Linked DNA regions of Homo sapiens: region 2 is linked to region 1. A link means that fine-mapping ties the variant in region 1 to the expression of a gene that starts in the linked region. Tissue or cell type: blood mononuclear cells. Region 1 holds a variant in brackets; the other region holds the start of a gene. All regions are shown on one strand. Distances are between the middles of the regions.

What was found. PIP is the estimated chance that this variant, and not a neighbour inherited with it, causes the effect.
Region 2: MYO3B starts here. The variant in region 1 is fine-mapped to the expression of MYO3B in blood mononuclear cells (TOPMed, PIP 0.98).

Annotation. Positions count from the first base shown.
Region 1 is chr2:170,358,131-170,369,027 of GRCh38, reverse strand. All of the region lies in intron 8 of MYO3B (myosin IIIB), which reads right to left. Among named protein-coding and RNA genes, the nearest start is that of MYO3B-AS1, 13 kb to the right of the region's middle. RefSeq lists an enhancer at 5,835-6,129. The variant C/T (reference allele first, on the strand shown) is at 5,611.
Region 2 is chr2:170,171,148-170,182,044 of GRCh38, reverse strand. It overlaps MYO3B (myosin IIIB), which reads right to left and starts at 3,898. Exons shown (of 35, transcript NM_138995.5): 1 at 3,756-3,898. The coding sequence starts at 3,757. RefSeq lists an enhancer at 1,487-1,716.

The sequences.
Region 1 (10,897 bases):
AAACATCAGAAATCTGTCTTCGTTTGTTTTAAGCAAAGTTGAAAACACAATTTGTACCATCAACTTGAAGTACTCAAAACACTAAAAATATAGACTGCTCAATTTTCTATCCGCATTTTCATTAGAGAAAAATATTTTCAGTGGAGTCAAGTTGATTTGTATGTATACTTTCTTTTAGAAATACGTAGAATTAAATACTATCACCTCAATTAAATCCTAATATATGAAATGCCCCTTGTTTACCGGCAGGGAAAAGGCATCTAGGTGTTAAAAGGAAAAAAACTAATCATAAAGAAACCTTCACAGAAACGCTGGCGCTTGATTTCTAATGTCTTCTGAAGAACCAGAAAAACCACAGAACAGGAAGTGAGTACAATATAATTCAGATGAATTGGAATAGAATTATACAAACAGGGAACAAAAAGTCCATTCGAAATGATAAAAATTGGGTTGCATTTAAACTCTTCTGTGGTTAATTGGTTAAAATCATACCGGCATAACTACTTTCTGTTTTAGATTCAAAATCCTTTTCAAAGCAATGATTCAGTACATTTTGCTGCACCTTCTGTGTTATTCAAGATGATTTGGATACAGGGAAATTTCTAGTGAAATTGAATCTGACGAATATCCCTCCAACTGCCATCACATTTCTATTCTGCGTACCTGCCCTTGGCGAGAGGAAGAAATTTTAACATCTACCCTTTTAAGCCACTTGTCCTTAAGCCCACATTGGAGGCTTAGGATAAATGGATGCCATTCTGCCCAATCCATGAAATAAACGTCTTTAGTTTTCTCAACAGTGGAATGCCAGCAGCATCTAACATACAACGTATTTTTAATGAAATTCACTGACAAATGTTAAAAAACTTCAGCCTCACCTTGAACATCTTTTCAAAACACTTAAGCAGAGTTCTTGAAACAATCCTCAAAAGTTAAATTTACAAAAAAGCTTTGGTTTCTGCAGTTTTCAGTTCAAAACACTTTCATATCCCTTACCTTCTAGTCCTGAAAAGATATTCGGTAAATCTCCCAGTTACTCCATTTTATAATTGATTCAGGGGATTCCCTATCTATTGGAACTGGAGCTTTCAGCCAGAAAAGCCAACGGAACCTAAATTATCTCCATTCAGCTGCTTGCAGGACTATAAATACCACCTCTGCCTTGCCATGGGAAGAAATACATCATTTGACTTTTATAGGTTCAGGGCTTTTTGTATAATCTATTATTTTTCTGTGAAAAATAAAAAATCAGTGCATATGCTTTAAGAAGACTGTGTTCATGTCTTTACATCAGCAATCTTCCCTTGATTCCTTGTATATTCATCTCTATATGTAACTATCAAAGTTAATATGCTTAGATATTATGCAAAAATGCTAATAACCATGTTTCCTGAAAAAAGAGGGAACCCAAGAGGTAGTTATACTGTCAGTAACATAGGTGTATGGCCCAGTCCTCCTAGCATTAGGAATAGTGTATAAAAACTCCTAAGATAAACATAGCCCCTATGTCCTCTGAGAGTTCCTACTGAAGATGCACCCGGTAGTTGTGCACACCCCCAGGAACCTCAGAGGGAACGGGTAGGATGGGAGTCCAGGAACTGCTGGATCTGAAGCTAAGCCTGCTTACTGATTTCTTAATAAGTCACATTATGTCTGTTTCTCATCACCAAATAGGCATATCAGTATTGAAGTATTTCCCAAACATGGGGAGAGAAATTTCTTGTTTCCTCACATAATATTCATCCCACCCATCCGTCACCCTCCCCACATTTTTGTTTTGGCTTTCTTCCTGTGTTAATTGTTGAAGCGTCATCTGACTACCAGGAAATGCTCATTGAAAAGAAAGAATGAACAAAAGGACCAGGGGTCCCTCAATAGCCTGTTGACTAGTGGCAACACTTCAAATTAGTAAACACAGGGGCAGAGACTGAAGGTGGAAGGAGGCAATTCACAAAAAATTCATAGCATGTGAAGGGGAAAGTGAGCTGGAGCTGCCTCTCTACCTTCCTCCTTAATATAGGTACCTCAGGGCAGTGTTCCAGGTGAGGCCTGAAAACAAGGTCCTTTGGGTACTTCAGTAAGTAAAGCTCCTTGAACAGGGATTGAGAAAGACTAGGAAACCCATACTCCATCCAGCCTTATGAAAAGATGCCTCCACTGGAGTCTAGGGACCACAATTAAAGGTGGTATAGCTTGTTTCACAATGTTAGCATCCACTGGAGAAGCAAGGCTTCCAACACGGTCGCAAGATCATTTGATATGTTAGAGAGGGTCCCTCTCTAGATTATGGAGGAATAAAAGAAATGAATGAATAATGAAGTCAGAGAATTAGACAAAGAAGAAACTAACGAGTAAATCTGTTATTTCTTGAAGATCCAAAAAATGAAGATAGTAGGCATTCTACTTTCTGGAAGCAATGATCAAGAAGATCTGTTGGCCAGGCGTGGTGGCTCATGCCCATAATCCCAACACTTTGGGAGCCCAGATAGGAGGATTTCTTGAGCCCAGGAGTTCAAGAGAAGCCTGAGCAACATAGTGAGACCTCATCTCTACTAAAAATAATTTAAAAATTAGCAGAGCACACCTGTAGTCCCAGCTACTTGGGAGGCTGAGGCAGGAGGATCACTTGAGCCCAGGAGTTTGAGATTGCAGTGAGCTATGATCCCACCACTACACTCCAGTCTGGCAACAGAGTGAGACCCTGTCTCAAAAAAACAAAAACAAAAAACAAACAAAAAAAAGTGCTTTCTTAGTTCTCCAAGTAAGAAAGAAAGACTGAAGTGGGTTGAATGTCTGCGTGATAAACCCCTATTAACTTCAGTAGGGATGGCACCAAGTTCAAGAGGCTGAAGGAGAGACCCAGAGCCAACAAATGAGATATAGGGTTTTATTAGGAGAAACTTACATACAGGGATGATGCAGTAGCCATGTGCTGGACAGAAGAACCACCACTGCATGCAAAAAGCATGCAGTTTATATAGCATTTTCACTTCACTCCCTCCTCCTAACAACCTCCACCTGGCAACCTTCATTTAACGCAAAACAAAGAGCCTCACTCCCCTGTATGCTGATGTTCCACAGGAAGGGCCCAGAGCTCAGATGTTCCTCACAGACAAGGAATTTATCTCTGGGTTGGGCACGCTCTGAACTCCAAACACATATTCAGGTGCAACTGCCATACAGGATCATCCTCAGGGTATGCTCAAGTTAAATTATTGCTGTCGGGTGTGTCTACCATATACCATCATACCACAGGATCAGCACAACTGAACCTGAGTGTAAAGAGGAAGAAGGCTAAGCAGAGTTGTGACTCTCCAACTGCATTGGAGGATTTTTAGGGAAAGGGCATGAAGAACTTGAAGGTATAGCTTTATTCTAAAATACTCCTCTCTATATTTTTTTCTCATGGGGAGCAAAGAGCCAGTCTGAAATGGAACTATTATTTTACAGATAAATAGAGGAAAGTTATGCCTTAAGAGCAGATAGAAAGTCCTGCGTTACTGGATATGAGGGCATAGCATCATATCGTTTACTCAGCAAACATTTATTACTCAGCACTAGAACTAGCCACAATACATAAATTAATTAAAAGCTATGACCCTTTTCCTCAAGGATCTACAATCTAATTGGAAAGACAGAAGGACAAGAGAAGCACAAGAAACAGCAAAAGCCATATGTTTGCTTCTATCTTTAGGATAAGAAATAATAGCACAAAAGCATAGGGTTTCAGAGCCACAGGGACTGAGATTTTCGATTCTAGCCCCTCTTTTAAGAGGTGAGGAAATGGGATCAAGTCCTGGCAATGATGAGGTCAATTCCTCAACTCCCACAGGAGGACCCTTCCTGCTTTGTTCCGTGTTGTTAAAAATGACAAAGGTACAACGTACGAAACAATACTTCGCGGCCAGAGGGAAGAACTGTAGTCAGGGAAGACTTCCTGGAGCTGGTAAGAATTGAGCTAGGTAAGTCTTGGGGGAAGTTTTGGAACTAAATTGAACTAAACTGGGGGAGTAAAGGCAGAAGTCATACTGGGGAGCCAGACCGGCAATGCAAGAAGCAGACTAGACAAGCTGCAAAGCCAGTAAGTCAGGAGGCCACCAGAACACTGACCTTCACCTCCTAAGCTGCTTCTTTTGAATGCCTAACAACAGTTACTGCCTTTAGTCCCTTTACCAACTTTAACTAAGGTATAATTGTTGTTGCTTAAGACTTTGTAGTTTGGTGCCCAGAATTCTTACTGTTTAAGTTTGTCGGCTTGTCATTTCTATCCCTGGTCAGCAGAGATTTAGTGGATGAAGATGAAACTGACAGCTGGGATTCCTAAAACTCCTGATAGCCTCCATGTCCTTTTATAAAGCAAGATAGAATCCTTTAACCTGATTTGGAGAACAAACAAGTAGAACTAAAGGAGTTCTAAGAAACGTATTCATTTCAGGTATTGCTTATTAAACCAGGAATTGCAAATTCCAAAAGAAGACTATCTTCCCCCAGCCAGGGACTGAGCAGTTTTTACAAAAGGATGCATAAAATGTTAAACTCTGTATGGGATTGGGGGCCAGCCAACATGAGGTGAATTAGGGGAAGCACTAGACACATAAAGCATTCCATCAAAAAAAGAAGCTAGTTTCCTAGTCAAAAGAGTTTGGAAAACATTGGTGATTCTCTAAACCAAGTAAGTTTGGAGTTTTGTAATGCACACAAGCCTATTAAAGGTTCTTACAAGAGCTAGGGTTAAAAAAAAGTTTAATTCTATTTGAGCCCACGTTTCCAAGCTTACTTAGCCACAGAGACCTTTTTGTTTGTTTGTTTGGGCCCCACAAATGATATCCTTGGAAGTTCTGTTGTAAGCAATTAGTCGCATGATTTTAGAATGGACACCAGAGTCCTCAACTCAGTGGACTGAGGGGACACTGTAAGAACTCTTAATAATTGCCACATCTCAGACACTCTGGAGGGCTATTGTTTCTGCAAAAGACAGTGTTTCAACCTGGGGAGATATTTTCCTGAGCTCAGTTCTTTCCAGAGTCCTTTATTCTAGAAAACAAGTAGCAAGGACTAGATTTAGATACACTACTTTTCCCCAAATCATAAGTAATTCTTTCTTTCATTCATTCCTGGATTTTTTAATCTTTTTTAAAAAATTAGGATTTAGATATGCTTTCTCTGTGCTAACAGACAAAACAACAGAATAACAATTTATTTATACCATGAGATATATGCAAGAGACTCTGGAAATAAGGCCATGATGGGTGGTTTTGAATATGATAGAAAAGTCCACCAGAAGATAAAGGAAGCAAATTTCAGCCTTGAAGGAAATCAATCCACTATCTAATTTGAAATTCTAGTACCTTCCATCATGCTTTCTTGGCTGAAGATTAATTCTCAGAATCTATTAGTGTCACCACATTAAACACAGGTTGTTGCAGCCATTTGCAGCAATCTCCCAGTCTGGCTTCTGCCAAAAACAGGCAAAAACGGGACATTTCTTAGCAAGAAACAAGGTCGGGCTCTCAAGCTGGTGGTGTCTGTGCACTCTCTGCTCCAAGACAATAATGCTGTCGTGACACAGCTACTCTGTGCCTGTAAACTGCCATTTCATAACCAAAAAAC[C/T]GGATGCCTGCAAGGGGGAGCTATTTGTCAAGAGCCTCTGACTGTTGTTTACCAATGAATAAAACACTTGATATAGAGCAGCTGAAAAGGCAAAAACTAAAAATACTAGTAAACTGGGTAAGAAAAGCATGAGGGTGAGCAATGTATTCCATACATTGGGGCAAAACTAGATCAAAACTCAGGATTTATGACTCTTCTCATTTCTTTATAAATATTCTGTCTTTTATACTTCCTGCTATTTTCTTGCAGGCCTGCTACTTGAATTGTTATGTGTTCCCATTGCTACAGAAGATCTAAACATTTTGGATCTGAGCAAGCATTTCCCTGCCGTGTGATTCACTGTGCTGCCCTGTGGTTGCTATCATCGTCAAACAGAAGGCTGACTGACAAAGAGGCCTCTAAATCAAGGGGAGAAAATCCTCCAGAGGATACACTAATTATAGGTTAAATATCAGAGCACACAGTATTCTGCCTTGGAAGAAAATTTCCATTCTGCAAGACAAGACTATGACAAACAGGCATTTTCTCAAAATGACTAATGCCTCAAAAGAAGGCAGAATGAGAAACTTGATGCTGTGTATGGTATTTCTGTGAAACATCACCCCCCTGTTTGGTGGAATATTTAACTGCATTTCAGTTTTCCTGAAGTCTGAATATCACATTTGATGCTGTTGCAAAGTCTCACTGGTGAGAACTGAAATTGCATGCTAACTTCACATTTGGGGTGGGGAAGTGGGGTCCTCCCCTGAAACAGGTAAATGAGAACTGGGAGTGCATTACTCAGTTAGGCAGGTCTATGGTTATCAATCAGAGGAGAATAGTCAGTATTTGCTAAAAGACAAAAATCCCCAAGAAGGTAGGATGGAGAGCTTTTGAACAGGAAGCTGAGTCTCCCTTTGAAATGAGTAACGGGAATAGAGTCTGTGTAAAAAGCAAGAGACCACATGGCTACTGGACGACAGGGCAGCTGCCATCTTGCCAGAGATCCTGGGGCAAGGTTGGAAAGATAAACAAGTGAGCCTGATCTTTAGACAAAGCTGTCAGCACCAAAGGTCCACAGTAAGCTCAAGTGAAGGTAGGACGGAAATGGAAAGGGAAGAACATTGCATTTCCTGAAGCCTGACACTGGGCAGGAAACTTGGGGATAAAGAACATCTACTTTTCTCACCCAGAGAAGACTCAAAGAAAGTAAAGAAGGTGACAAAAGAAAACATATAGGGTGGTGGTTTGAAGCCAAAATATCACATCTCTGAGCAAATGGGACAGAATCTACCTCTAGAGTTAAGACGTGTGCACCAGTGTGGCTGGAGAAAGTCCCTATGCAAAAACAAGGCCCAGGATCAGAGACCCCCAGTAAGGCAGAGAGCTGCAATATGTAACCCTGTAATGCCCCAGGGTTGCAGCCTCAGTGAAACCTGTCAACCAGGAACCTCTTTACCCTCTATCTCTAAGCCCTTGGTCAATATGAAATAGTTTGAAAAGCCCAGACTAACTGACTATGTTCTTAGGGAAGGAGATGTGGTAACAAAAATTCTAGATCCTCAAGCCCTGCTTGTCTGGGGACAAGTGGAGAGCCACAGTGAGGAGGAACAGAGGAAAGGAGACTATACTATAGACAAAAGGCAGAATCAGTCTGGGAGGAGGAAAAAGAGAGAGAGATGTAAAAGTGCTAAACAAATGACATGAAGTTAGAAGGGCCAAGTGAACCAGGCCAGAGCCAAGTAGCAGGTCAAGATGGGGCACAGATTCAAGGTAAAGAGAGGTATCTCCAAGAAAAAGTCACTGAAGGCATACTGACCGAGTTGGCTGTTTTATTCTTGTTCTTGGCACCTCCTTCTTATGTTTAAGCTACGCTTTCAAACTGTCCTACGGCATTTGACAAAGAATGGGGATAAGGTTGCCCTCTGCTGGACACAGTGGCAGCCAAGAAGATGTCAATTTTGTGTCCGAGAATTAAGGCAGTCTTAAGGATTGTTAACTGGTGGCCCCAAGTCATCACCTTCTCCCTCCTCCTGGCTTTCTTTTTTCTTTGGTTGAGTTTTTATAAAAAGCACCTTGCAATTAACCAGATATTTCTCCAGGCAACTCCACCCATGTGACACAGTCAGGGCACAGATAAACACAGCCCCAGCAACTAGCTTATCAGATTGTTAGTCTATGTTCAAATGCCACCCTTTAGTTCAAAGGGCTGGAGAAGGTGTGGTCCCTGGGAGATCACACCTTAAATGGTTAGAAAGGTTATTGTGGGGAATAAATGAGTTAATTCATGTCTAGTATTTGGTATATAGCGAACAATTGATAAATGTCAGCTCCCTGGGCCAGACACTGTACTAGTTGCTGGGTATACAGTCAGTCAGTCCATTGGAGGAAGATAGCTGTGGTACACCTATTGATAATTAGCAGTATGAGTGCTACATAAGTGTCTTACTCCATTTTGCACTGCTCTATCAGATGACCTAAGACTGGGTAATTTATAAAGAACAGAAATGTACTTTCTCACAGTTCTGACGGCTGAGAATTCCAAGATCAAGCCTCCAGCAGGTTCAGTTGTCTGGTGAGGGCTGCTCTCTACTTCCAAGATGGCTCCTTCAGAGGAGAGGAATGCTGTGTCTTCACACAGTGGAAGGCCAAAAGGCAAGAAGAGACTAACTGCCTCTCCTTCAAGCCTGTTTATCCAGTACTTAATCCTTAATCCCATTCACCACGGAGAGGCTCTCATGACCTAACGACCTCTTAAAGAACCCACCTCTTAATACTATCACAAAGCCAGCACCTGAATTTTGGAGGAGACACATTCAAACCACAGCAACAAGGAAATGTTAATGTGCAATGGCTCCCTCAGTTAGATTTTAATAATACTGTGCTCATTAGTTAGCTACTTTCTCTCAGTTGATTCCTACCACTGAGGACAAATTTCTGTTTGATAGTAGATGCCCTGATCAGAACTTTCAAAGTTCTGAGGGGAAGGGAATTTCTGGGGTCTGGCAATTCAGCAAAAGCAAAGAGCTTTGGCATTTTCAAGTTCATGCCTTTGGGTAATTTTTTTAATGTCTGGCTCATTTCTTTGATTCGAAAATCAATTTCCATTTTGACAAACAGTCATGGTCTGCTTCTTAGTCCAGGCTTAAATGCCCAGGGACACATGAATTGTATTTCTTCCCATGATCCTACTTGCCACCCTTCCCTGAATTAAATCCACAATTCTCATTTGTATGCATTCTTCTCCCTACAAGGAGAAGGAATAGAGAGTACCCAGCCATCCTCTAACAGAAATGAACAATCTGTTCCACAGTGCATGATCATTACATGCTCAGGACTATACCAGAACTGGGGTTGGGGCTAAGAGAGTGCAAATCAAACAGAAGACATTATATTCATCCACAAGAAACTTATCAGCTTCTGGGGTAATACCAAACTTACACATATGAAAGATTTAGAGAATCAGATGAGATTGATTTCATTGATTCATTCAAAAACTTACTAGGTATTTACTGTGAATGGTGCCACAGCAAATGCCTAGGGAAAACAATGCCTGGAATGAGACATTTGCTTTCATGGGATTTAGAAAGAAGTATTAGAATAGACATGGACATAAATAATAATAATTTAAGGCTGAAAAGTATAAGCACTAGAATAGCGCAGACGAAGTAAATAATTCTAACTAGGAGCAAGAGTTTCACATGAGAGATGATCCTTGGGTCTTAAAGAACAAAAGGGGTATTGACAGAAAATGCAGGCAAGAGGCATTCCAAGCGGAGGGTACAGTAGCCTTTTGAGGAAGTTCATTGGTATAAAATGCAAGGCTCATCTAGGGATATGAGTAGAACAGAACAATGCAGTTATAATAGAGATGGGGTGAGAGTCTGGCTGGAACATCTTTTCAGAACCCAGAAGGTCTTGCTGGTAAGTTTGGGCTTTCTTAGCCACATTAAACTGAGGTTCATGAACAAGGATATAACACAATTAGATATTTGCTTTAGAAAATAAAGTGGCACCACATTAGAGAGTAGATTAGAGGGAAGGAGTGAATTCATTTAGGAAGAATACAGTCTGAATTAATGAAATAGAAAGGGAAAGATGATGATTGTAGCCCTGGAACTTGAAGACAAGTCAAGAGTGTTGAAAGAAAAGAGAAGAGGTCACCAATGGAATCTTAGGCAAACTTAAATTTAATAGATGGGCCTGTAGCTAAATGTTTGTGAACATAAAAATCTTTTATCTTCACTACCCAACTAAAATCTCTCTCAAAGGACCCTAAAGGCCTTTAAGTTGCCGATTCTGTGTTCCCTTTTTAGTTCTCATTGTATTCAACCTCTCTGTTCAAGAGGTCACTAATGACCATCATTACCCTGGTTTCTTGAAACATTCTGTTTCATTGCCTGTAGTGATGCTACATCTCTTAGTTATTCTTTTACTTTTCTGACTACTCTCGCTCATTTATTTTCATTACCAGGTGGAATAAGATGACAAGGGCAGAGGAGATAGGGTATGCAAAGACAAGGAGAAGCGAAAATAGAACTGATAGCTTTTATGTGCACAGGCTTAGAACTTGCTCCTGAACAACTACTGCCTTTGCCTAGTAGCTCAAATTTATAAATTAAGTAATATAGAGGGAATTTGCCTACTACGGAGAAGGCCGTCCCTATTCTTGGAGACCCACAATCCCAAACAAGTCTGTAGATTCTGCTCAAAATGAGTGGTTGCAACTATAATGTGCATAGCTGGCATTAAGTAAAAATTTTAAATGCAAGAAAATCAGCAAAAACTACTCAATAAAATTTTCAACTGATTATTGCTAATAATTCTTATAATAGGTTTAATGAGATATAGTTCACATACTATACAGTTCATCCATTAAAAATGTACAATTCAATTATTTTTAATATATTCACACAGTTGTGCAACCATTACCACAATCAATTTCAGAACATTTTCATCACCCCAAAAAGAAACCCCGTATCCATTAGCATTCACACCCTATACTCCCTCAACCTCCTCAGTCCCAGGCAACCACTAATCTACTTTCTGTCCCTGTAGATTTGTCTAATCTGGACATTTCATATAATATGTATGGTCTTTTGTGACTAGCTTCTTTCATTTTGCATGTTTTCAAGGTTCATTCATATCACAGCATATATTAATATTTCATTCATTTTTATTGTTAAATAATGTTTCATTATATGGACATACCACATTTTGTTGATCCGTCTATCAGTTGATAGACACTTAGGTTGTTTCTACTTTTGTTTTTTTGTTTTTTTTTTTGAGAAGGAGTTTCACTCTCGTT
Region 2 (10,897 bases), 190 kb after region 1:
AGAGTATATACAATAAAAAAGAAAAAGACTCAAAAAATTTAAATGTATAAAAGATGCTAAATCTCACTAGTAAATTTTAAACGGCAAATCAAACTAATGAGATACCATTTGTCTCCTATCACACTGTCAAGATTTTTAGAAGTTTGATAATAGTGTTAAGAGAAATAAGCACTCTGAGACAACATGAGCGAAAGCGTAAACAATCTTTGTGAGGAATTATTAGTCAAAATCTACCAAATGCCCATTCCCTTTGTCTCTGTAATTCTACTGGTAGGCATTTACTTTACATATATAATCAAAAAAAGCACACTTAGATTTATATTAACAGAACATAAAAGAAAAACCATCATCTCGATCGATGCAGAAAAAGCATTCACAAAAAATTCAACATTTATTCAAAATTTAAAAACAACAACAAAAATCTCTCAACAGACTAGAAAGTGAAAGGAACTTCTTCATCTGATACAGGAATCTAGGAAAAACCTGAAGTTAACACCACACTTAATGGTGAAAAACCGAATGCTTTCACCTTAAGATCAGAAGCCAAGGATGTCTGCTCTCATCATTTATATTGAATACTGTGGTGAAGCCAGAATAATAAGTCAAGAAAAAGAAAATTTAAAAATCCAGATTAGAAGGGAAGAAGTAAAATGGGCTTAATTTGAAGATTACATGATTATCTATTTAAAAAACTGATGGAATTTATAAAAACATTACTAGAACTAATTAGTGAGTTTATCAGAATTACAGGATACAAACAAGGTCAATATTTTAAATTCAATTATATTTCTACATACTAGAAAGGAAAACTTTTCAACAGTGCTAAAACAATTGTAGAGCAATATGCAAAAAGAAAAAAAGAATCTTTATCCTTACACCACATATAAAAATTAACTTTAATCATTAAACAGATGTAAGAGCTAAAACTCTATTAAACTTGAAGTAGATAGACATACAAGATTGTTCACTATAGTATTATTTTCAGTAGAAAACCAGATACAACCTAGAGGCCCATCATCATGGAGAGATTATCTAATAAATCATAATAGTTACATAAAATTAAATACAATGTAGCCACAGGTAACCACCAAAAAGAAAAAAGGTAAATTTTCTGCCAATTAATATGGAAAGAATGCCAAATATACAATTAAGATTTGTTTTAAAAGTGTTGAATAGTGTATAGAGAGGACAATTTTTGTGTAAATACAAAGAATATTTGCATTTCTAGTCATTTTATGTGTATATTTGTGTGTATGTCTCTATGTATGTGTATATCCTTATATACATTTTTCCAGAAGGCTACACAGGAAACTCTTAAACTTTAGGGAGAGGTGGTAAAAATCAGAGAGTTTGGAAAAGAGAGAAATTTATATGCTTTTTAAAATTATTACACATTTTTAGTCATGTTTTTTGCTAGTGCATATGTTATTCTACTTTTTAAAATAAATATTTTTTAAAAAAACATATAAGAGATCTCTACAGAGGAGACTATTATGACCCAAATGTGTGCTGAAGTCAGAGGATAGCAGAAACCATATGAAACAGAGGCTCATCCTGAGAAGAAAAAGAAAACAGAGAAATAAGAAACTGAAAGGACCATGCTTGAGAGAGTGAGACAAAGAGGATTAGTGAGTGGGTTCACTGTGAATTCTACATCTTGGCCCTCTGAGGCCTGCTAAGCTTTGCTGTCTGTCCTTGTAACCCATGAAATTTCCTACTGCATTCTTCCAAGCAGCCCCTCTTTTCATGAGCTGATTTGAGTTTCTCGTGAGCTAGTTTTAGTTCCTTAACAACCCCAAATTGGTCTAGTCTGATCCCTTGTTGAATACCCTGAATTAGTCCCTAACGGAGGTACAGCCTTACCTTGTTGAAAGTAAAGCACTCTGCAGCATGCACCCTGTGAATGTCTGCAGTTAGTCAAGCCTAGCGAGCATGATTTAAATAGAAACTTGCCCAGCAACATTTTATACTCATTAGAAAATTCATGATGAAGATTTCCATTGCTCAGTATGCTATTCAGAATATTTTTTCTAGATGTTATAGTATGGTATATATGAATCACAAATCATAGAATGCTTTCAAATCTAGAGAATAGATTTTAGAAAGAAGAAATCGGAAACCTGAACTGTGAAATGTCAGAGGAAATCTGTACAAATATTAAATATAACACCCAGAGATACACAGAATAAGGAAACACATACCATACAAGCGTGAGTAAATTAGAGAATAATTCCAAACCAATACATAAGCAAGTGCATAATAGTTGTGTTAGTCCATTTTCTGCTGCTGTAACAGAATACCACAGACTGCATCATTTATAAACAATAGAAGTTTATTTGGCTCATGGTTCTGGAGGCTGGGAAGTCCAAGATCAAGGGGCCACATCTGGTGAGGGCCTTCTTGCTGCATCATAACATGGTGGAAGGTCTCACATAGTGAGACAGGGCAAGAGAGTGAGAGCTCAAGAGAGAGAAAAAGGAGACTGAACCTATCCTTTTACTAGGAGCCGTCTCCCACAATAACAGCATTAATCCATTCATAAGGGCAGAGCCCTCATGACCTAGTCACCTCTTAAAGGTCCCATTTCTTCTCACAATGGCAATTAAATTTCAACATGATCTTTGGAGGGGACATTCAAACCATAACCATGGTAAAGACGTAAGAGTAGGAACTGGCTTCTTCACAAACCACCTATCTGGATGCTGCTAGATAGGGCCTGTTCAAGTATAGCTCAAATGTCTTCTCTTCTAGGAGGCCTTTCCTAATTTTCCCACTAGAACTGACCTTTATGGTTCCACTGATTATGTACTCTTTTCCTTTCTTTAAATTTTATTTTATTTTAAGTTCCAGGTTACATGTGCAGGACGTGCAGGTTTGTTACACAGATAAACATGTGCTATGGTGGGTTGGCTGCACCTATTAAGCCCCCCATGCATTAGCTATTTATCCTGATGCTCCAGGGGAGACACTCAGGACTGGCATTTGACAGAGCTTGGTAGAGGAATCCAATGATCTCTAGGTTGATCTCTAAGTTCCATCTCTAATGTTCTATGGATTTTAAACCTTGAATATACAAAATTACTGAGAGGAAGAAAAGAATCATGGCATAATGGAATTTATCTACTATTGTTTACATTGTCATGTTACCAAATTAACAAATCTGTCATGATATTGCAGTCACTAAGGAACAATACATACCCACAGCTCTTACAAATGATTAACTAAATGATCAGATTTTTCATTTCCCCACCAAAGCATGAGGAAATTTATCTTAGCTTTAGCTGCCTGAAACCTCTCTTGGGTGAAAAACATTAAAAACATCTGCAAATTACTGATGACTAATGCCCTTCAATTTGGCCTCAAGCTGAGAAATTCTGTGCAGAAATAAAGTGGTTTATAATCCCACAGGTCCATTCTATTATAAACTGCAGGTGGCAAATCAAGTGACTATGAACTATGCTGTGTGTATGTGTGTGTGTGTGTGTGTGTGTGTGTGGTGTGTGTCTGTGTAAAAAGCAATACTCAAGAGGGTGTTTATCCTACTCCTTCAAGAGAAATTTAACCACCCAGACAAAAGGCAAATGCTAACTGAGAGGACCCAGGAATCTGGGTGATGTCAGACAGAGGCCCAAAGCCAGAGTGGCTGTCATCCCCCTCCACTGCCCACCAGCCAGGGCAGCTGCATCTGCCCTTTGCAGAAAAACAATCTAAAGCAAGCACAGAAGAAAGCTGGAAGGAAAATAACTGCAACTCACATCGATGACCTATTTTCTGAATCCGGCTTATGAGAGATTGGATTCTCATTCCTCCAAAAACCAGCAGAACACTTCAGGCCCAGAAAATGGTGTCTTTGATGACTAGAATGTATGACACATCATTACCAAAGGACTTTCGATCTAGGTTCCAAGAGGTGTTAGCCTCAGATGACTATTGTGGGAGGAGCTGATAAATCCACCAAATCCTTGGTGACTTTGCTTCACTATTAGGCAAGATTAAGATGATGCTAATTGGTAGTGAGCCTGATCTATTTAGTGTCTCCTACCAGGACACAGAGCAGAATCAAAACCATTCTCACAGATCCTGTTTGCATGTCATTTAACAGTTCCAATGTGATATTCCCCCAACCTTTTAAAGTTCCTTCATTCCAGATTAAATTCCTTCATTCCAAATGCTGCACAATCAAAACTAATCATCTTTTTGTGAGCAAAGGGCATAATCAAAGCATGTAGTCAGGGTCACTTTTCTGAACTGCAGATAAACCCAGGGGAAACACCATGAGTTTCTGATCTGAATTACCAAGCAATGAAACAGTGACTATTCAACAGTGACTATTCATTCAGTAGCATGCCCTGGGCTATATACAGAACAGTAGGTTAAGAGGAGGCAGGGGGTGGGGGGGTGGTGCTGGGCATGGTGGATCACGCCTGTAATCCCAGTACTTTGGGAGGCCAAGGCTCGTGGATCACCTGAGGTCAGGAGTTCGAGACCAGCCTGGCCAACATGGGGAAACCCCATCTCTACTAAAAATACAAAAATTAGCAGGGTATGGTGGTGTGCGCCTGTAATCCCAGCTACCAGGGATGCTGAGGCAGGAGAATTGTTTGAACCTGGGAAACGGAGGTTGCAGTGAGTAGAGATTCTGCCACTGCACTCCAGGCTGGGCAACAAAGTAAGACTCCATCTCAAAAAAAAAAAAAAAAAAAAAAAAGGGAGAGAGGGGAAGTGAGAAACAGGAGGGTAGGGTCCCCAGAAAGCTTCTTTTCTGGCCAGCTAACATGACACATAGGCCCATGTGAAATAGTTGAAGACTGTGCAATAACACTGGATAAGCTATATCCATCAATTCTGAGGAGGAGTCAGTTCAACCCAGGACCAAGACTTGAGTGGGAATGCTTCCTGGAGCAGATAAATCTAGGTACAGTTTTGAATGAAGAAGTGAAAAGGATTAGTGTAGATGAGGCAGGAGAGAAACCCAGAGCCAAGAAACAGCACACAGAGAATGCAAATATGAAGAAGGTGATTTAAAGGACAGCGATCTTACTCCCGCTAGTCAATAATGGCCTTTGTGTTTCCATTTACTGTCATAAGAATCTTAAGAATGGGGATAATGTGTTCTATCTTCCTATATTTCCTACAGTATTTGCACATAATAATTGCTCATATTATAGCTAGTAGAATCATGGATTCCTACAGTTGGACTGAACTTATCATCCCATCTGCTTGCAGAATAAATTAATAAATAAATGAACAGGTTATTAAAATTAACAGGTTGTTAAAAAGATCAGCCTGGTTCCAGTAGAAGAATTATAAAAATAATCAAGAGATGAAGTTGAATTTGTATACAAGAGTCAGTTGAAGGCAGAGCTTTCAGGCAGCCTGGGGGGCTGGAATTTTTCCTCAAAGGTGAGAGGGTGCCACACCAGGCTTTTAAACAGTAGAGTAACATAGGAAATTTTCTTTGAGAAAGAGTGTCTTGGCAGATTTTTGCAGGAAAAGGCAAATCAGAAGGCCAGCAGGATTCCATTGCAACAAGGAGTTAAAGGCTATACAGTCTGGAAGGTGACCGACAGCCTGCCCAGGCCCAAGGGAAAAAAAATACCAGATGCCCCAGCAGAGGAGGACTGGCTAGACTGTCTTCACCAGGGATTTGCCCGAGGCCCTTTCAGCCACTGGGCCCCAGTAATTTATCCTAATTTCCTTCCCCACAGCCCCGCCTCTCCACCTCAACCCTGATAGTACTTATTAGCTCAAAATGGACCATCTGAAGGAAGGGACAACCTCTTGCGAACGAACCGAGGGCCTGGTCTGCTCCAAATAAGTGTTTCCTCTAAGAAAGAAATTATAATGCATTCCTAGTGTGAGTGCAGCAGCAATAGCCTGACAGCCATTTGCATAATTTCTCTTCTGTAACAGACTTCAAAAATAACAATAGGCGAACTAGATAGAATCTATTAATTTTAAATTTGCTTGAGCTGCTATCTTTAATGAAGCTAAAGTACCATGAAGATTTTAAATCTATTAATTATGTGGTGTATTATTTGTTCTCTCCAATGAGACATTTTGGGGAATGGACATTTAATTTGTGTTGCTATAGAATCACCACCTTATTCTGGGATGTCCACTTGGTTTGAATGTACTGATAAGGTTGGAAGGTAGCGTGTTTAGAAAGTTCATCCAAGAGTAGCAGAAAAATGCTAATTAATGTCAAGAATAAAATATACGCACACACATCAAGTCAGGAATGACTCAGGAACGCAGAAGTGACCAGCCTGGGCACCATAGCAAAACTCTGTCTCTACAAAAAATAAATAAATTAGCAGGGCATGTTGGCACATGCCTGTAGTCCCAGCTACTTGGGAGGCTGAGGTGGGAGGATCATTTGGGCCCTGGAGTTCAAGTCTGCAGTGAGCTATGATCACACCACTGCACTCTCACCTGGGGGACAAAGTGAGACCCCACCTCAACAATAAAAATGTAAGAACCCGGAAGCAAAAGAATCTCATAGATGACTTTCGCAAGTGCTAAAACCACTACACAGCAACAGGAGGACAGGAACCATGCCTATCAGGTCCACCATTATATCTCCCATGCCTAACATAGGGCCTGGCATGTGGCTATATAATGTTGAAAGAAATGACCTACTGGATGGATGAATGAATGGGATTTCTTTACATAACAAAGGCAATTAAAATACCTAAGAAATATATGCATAAGATTTATTTTTCCAAAGAACTAAAAGAGCAATAATTTCATGATCATTTTCATTCATAAGCATACATGCCCACATGTGTGCACGGGCAAACACGCACACCCTTCAAGTAAAAACACCTTAAGAAGGAACTACATTGAAAAGAAAGGACTTTAAGTCTTAAATTATTTATTATAGCAGAAACATTTCAAACTAGCAAAGCATTTAATAACACTGTAAAATGAATTACCACAAGTAAACCTCTTAGTTTTCTTCATCCATTTATGGAGTGCCAGACACTACACTTGATGGCTGACAAATTGCAAAGAAGGAAAAAAAGAAAATACCTAACTTTTGAGTGTCTTCTGGATAATTTTTCCAAAGAACATCCTACTAAGTTATACTCTAAACAGGCCAGACGCGGTGGCTCATGCCTGTAATCCCAGCACTTTGGGAGGCCCAGGTGAGTGAATCGCCTAAGGTCAGGAGTTGGAGACCAGCCTGACCAATATGGTGAAACCCCATCTCTACTAAAAATACAAAAATTAGCTGGGCGTGGTGGCGGGCGCCTGTAAGCCCAGCTACTCAGGAGGCAGAGGCAGGAGAATCGCTTGAACACAGAAGGTAGAGGTTGCAGTGAGCTGAGATGGTGCCCACTGCACTCCAACCTGGGTGACAGAGCAGGACTCCGTCTCAAAAAAAAAAAAAAAAAAAAAGTTTTACTCTAAACAGATGAATTTTTAGCAGCACCAAATAATCCATTTTCTGCTCCATTTTAATATCCACATTTTCATTTCATGGGTTTTATCCCTCAATTCCAAATGACATTCTAAGTCAAATAAGAACTTAACCAAAGTCATCAGCTAATACTTAAAAAACAAATAAATCCTAATGGTAAAAGGAGAATCTCTGGGTATTAAGTCTGCCCTGAAAAACAGGGCAAACAATGTGTCCAGTTTCAGATTTTAAAAATTTGTGGATCTGGAGTTCGCCTGCTTTATCACACACACACACTGGGCACACACAGAGATCACCTGTGTGTGATCTGCTTTATCACACACACACACACACACACACACACACACACGGTACACACAGAGATCCCTGGGGATTGTTCCTGCACTTCCATACTTCTCTCTCCATAAAGCTCAATCTTCCTTCATCCTGAATACGGTGAAACTACTATGATCTTCCATACTACTTTCCTAATCATATTTTGGAAAATGTCATGTGGAAATCTTTTTGGTATTAGTATTTTCAAATCAATCCTTCCAACATACCCTGTAATCAAAGCACAGTGTGATTCATTCTGTCAACATCCAGTGGCTTTGGGAGGCCAAGGTGGGAGGATTGCTTGAGCCCAGGAGTTCAAGACCAGCCTGGGCAATATAGTGAGAACCCATCTCTACAAAACTAAAAGATTAAAAAAATTATCCAGGCATGATGGTGTGCAACTGTAGTCCCAGCGACTTGGGAGGCTGAAGTGGAAGGATGGCTTGAGTCCAGGAGTTCGAGCATGCAGTGAGCTATGATCTTGCCACTGCACTCCAGCCTGGACAACAGAGTGAGATACTGTTTCTACAAAAAACAAACAAAAACATTCCATGGTGCCTATGGTGTGGCAGGTCCTGGTGACATAAAGTAGCCTCCTTATCCCTATGGGGCTCAGAGCATGAGTGTTACAGAAGGGAAGTGCAAGGTGCTATAGGAGCCCATGACAAAGGAAATCAGGCCTCTGAGGTGATTCTCCAACTTGGTTGCACATTGGAATCACCTGAAGAGATTTACAAATATGGATTCCTGGTCCCACCTCTCCCTGGAAATTCTGGAGTATGGCTCTGAGCACCAGCAGTTTTTAAGCTTCCCAAAGAGGCAAAAAAGTTTGTGAATCATTGCTCTAGGGGGGTGGTTCTCGAACTTTTGTATTCATCAGAATCTTCTGGAGGGCTTGGTAAAACAGACTGCTGGACTCCACATCCAGAGTTTCTGACCCTGGTGGTGGAGAAGAGCCACAGAATATGCATCTCTAACAAGTTCCCAGGTGATGCTGGACCACCCTTTGAGAAACACTGCTTCAGAAAGCCAGCTGAGGAAGTGAGCTGAAGGGACAGGGGACGGGGGAATGTTTTCGGCAGAGGGAAGCACCGTGTGAAGGCCCAAAGTGGAGATAGCACCGCGGCAAGCAAATATTCCTGGAACCAAGAGATCTGAGGCATGGCCAGAGGTTAGGGAGCAAGGAGGATCATGCAGGGTAAGGCCAGTGATAGGTGGACACAAATCCTGGTCCTGCCATCTATGATTATGACTGAGAAAAAAAATGACTCCACAAAGCAAAAGAGGCTGCTCCTCTTCACAAGAATTGGCCACAGTAGTATTGTCCAATCAGTAGGGTTCTTAACTCTCAGATTATGAAAAATCCAGGCTGGCTTATTATTAAAAAGTAATAACACTCTTTGCAGGGTTAACATTTTATAGCTTTCATGACACTTTTGCAAGTGTTATCTCATCCAATTCTTAAAGAAATCCTGGAATGCAAGAAGGTCTGGCGCTCCTGCCTTCATTTTGCCAGGTCTAGAACCCCATTATCAGACTCCTGTTCTGGTCATCTTCTACTATAGCTCGTTACCCTCCAGCGTTTACTTCTACCCACAAATGGAAAAGTCCAGTCCTCTAGAAAATTCTTGTCCAAGTGCTGAGAAAAATATAGGAGAAACCAGCTCTCCACATAGGTGGTAACATACACACCTGCCCATAGCATTTACGCATGTGTCACCAGAGACTGTTCCAGAAGGCCCTGGCTATGTTTAGACAACTATTTGACTCTCCAGAAATTCAATCCAAAAGCCAGGCATGGTGGCTTATGCCTGTAATCCCAGTACCTTGGGAGGCCAAGAGAGGAGGATTGCTTAATGTCAGGAGTTCAAGACCAGCCTAAGCAACATAGGGAGAACTACCCTGCCAATCTCTACAAATTTAAAAATTAGCTCATGTGGTGGCATATGCTTGTAGTCCCAGATACTCAGGAGGCTAAAGCGGGAGAATCTCTTGAACCCAGAAGGCTGTAGTGAGCTATGATCTCACCACTGCACTCCAGCCTGGATGACAGGGAGACCCTGTCTCAAAAAAAAAAAAAAAAAAATTCAGTCAGAGTGTAAAGTTGATTTGGAAGAGAACTCAGATGTTTGTTTTCACATTCTTAGACACTAGTCCTGAAATTTGGGTAGCTGCCATGAGGGGGAAGTAATGTCTGGGTTTGGTTCTACCGTAAGCCAACAGGCTTGGCAAACTATGGATAACTTAGAGACCATACAAGTATAATAAACAATTCAGGAATTTTTTTTTCTGTCAAAATTAACACTCTTCAGAAAATATTGGCTACTATTTTAATTTTTACATTCTTTTTAAATTCAAGAATGTGTTGTGTCTTTTTCTGTGATTATAAAGTAGTACATGTTTGTAGGTGAGATGTTGGAAAATACAGGATACAAATCAAATAAAATCACCCCTAATCCTACCCAAAAACTAATCACTTTCAACATTTTGTTGTCTTTCCTTCAGACTTAAAAAAAAAATGCATGTGGGTAGGTGCAAGAGTGTCTATGGGTGGGTGTGCATTTTTTTTTAACCAGTGTTGACTACCTATTGTTTGATATTTGGTATTTTTAAAAATATTACATCATTTTTTAGTAGGTTTTAACATCATTTAACTATAATCTTGATTCTTAAAAGGAGATATCTCCACTCTCAGGATATCAGAATCACCAAGGAGGCATTTTAAAAATTATACCTTGCTTCCGAAGCTACAATCCTCCTCCACCCACCCTCACATTAAGATTTCTTGGTGGGCTGGGGCTTGTACAGACATATGAGAACTGCTAGTCTGCAAGAGGTATTACTGACCATTCCTCTTTCCCTTACACGGGCACACCAAATTAGTTAACTGATGCCCCATAAGCATTTTGTTGTTTCCAATTTTTCCTTATTTATGAGCTACTGCAATCAACATCTTAGCATTCATATATACATACGTAATGGTTTTAAGTTAAAGTCCTGGGTATAGACTTGCTAGACAAAAGGATTTAAATATTTTTAAGGCTTATGAATAACTTTTGGGGAAAGATGTAACCTAGACTAGAGAATGATCAAAATATATAAAAACTATTGACTATATTAAGAATATTTCTTATAATGAACGAATGGTTTTCAATC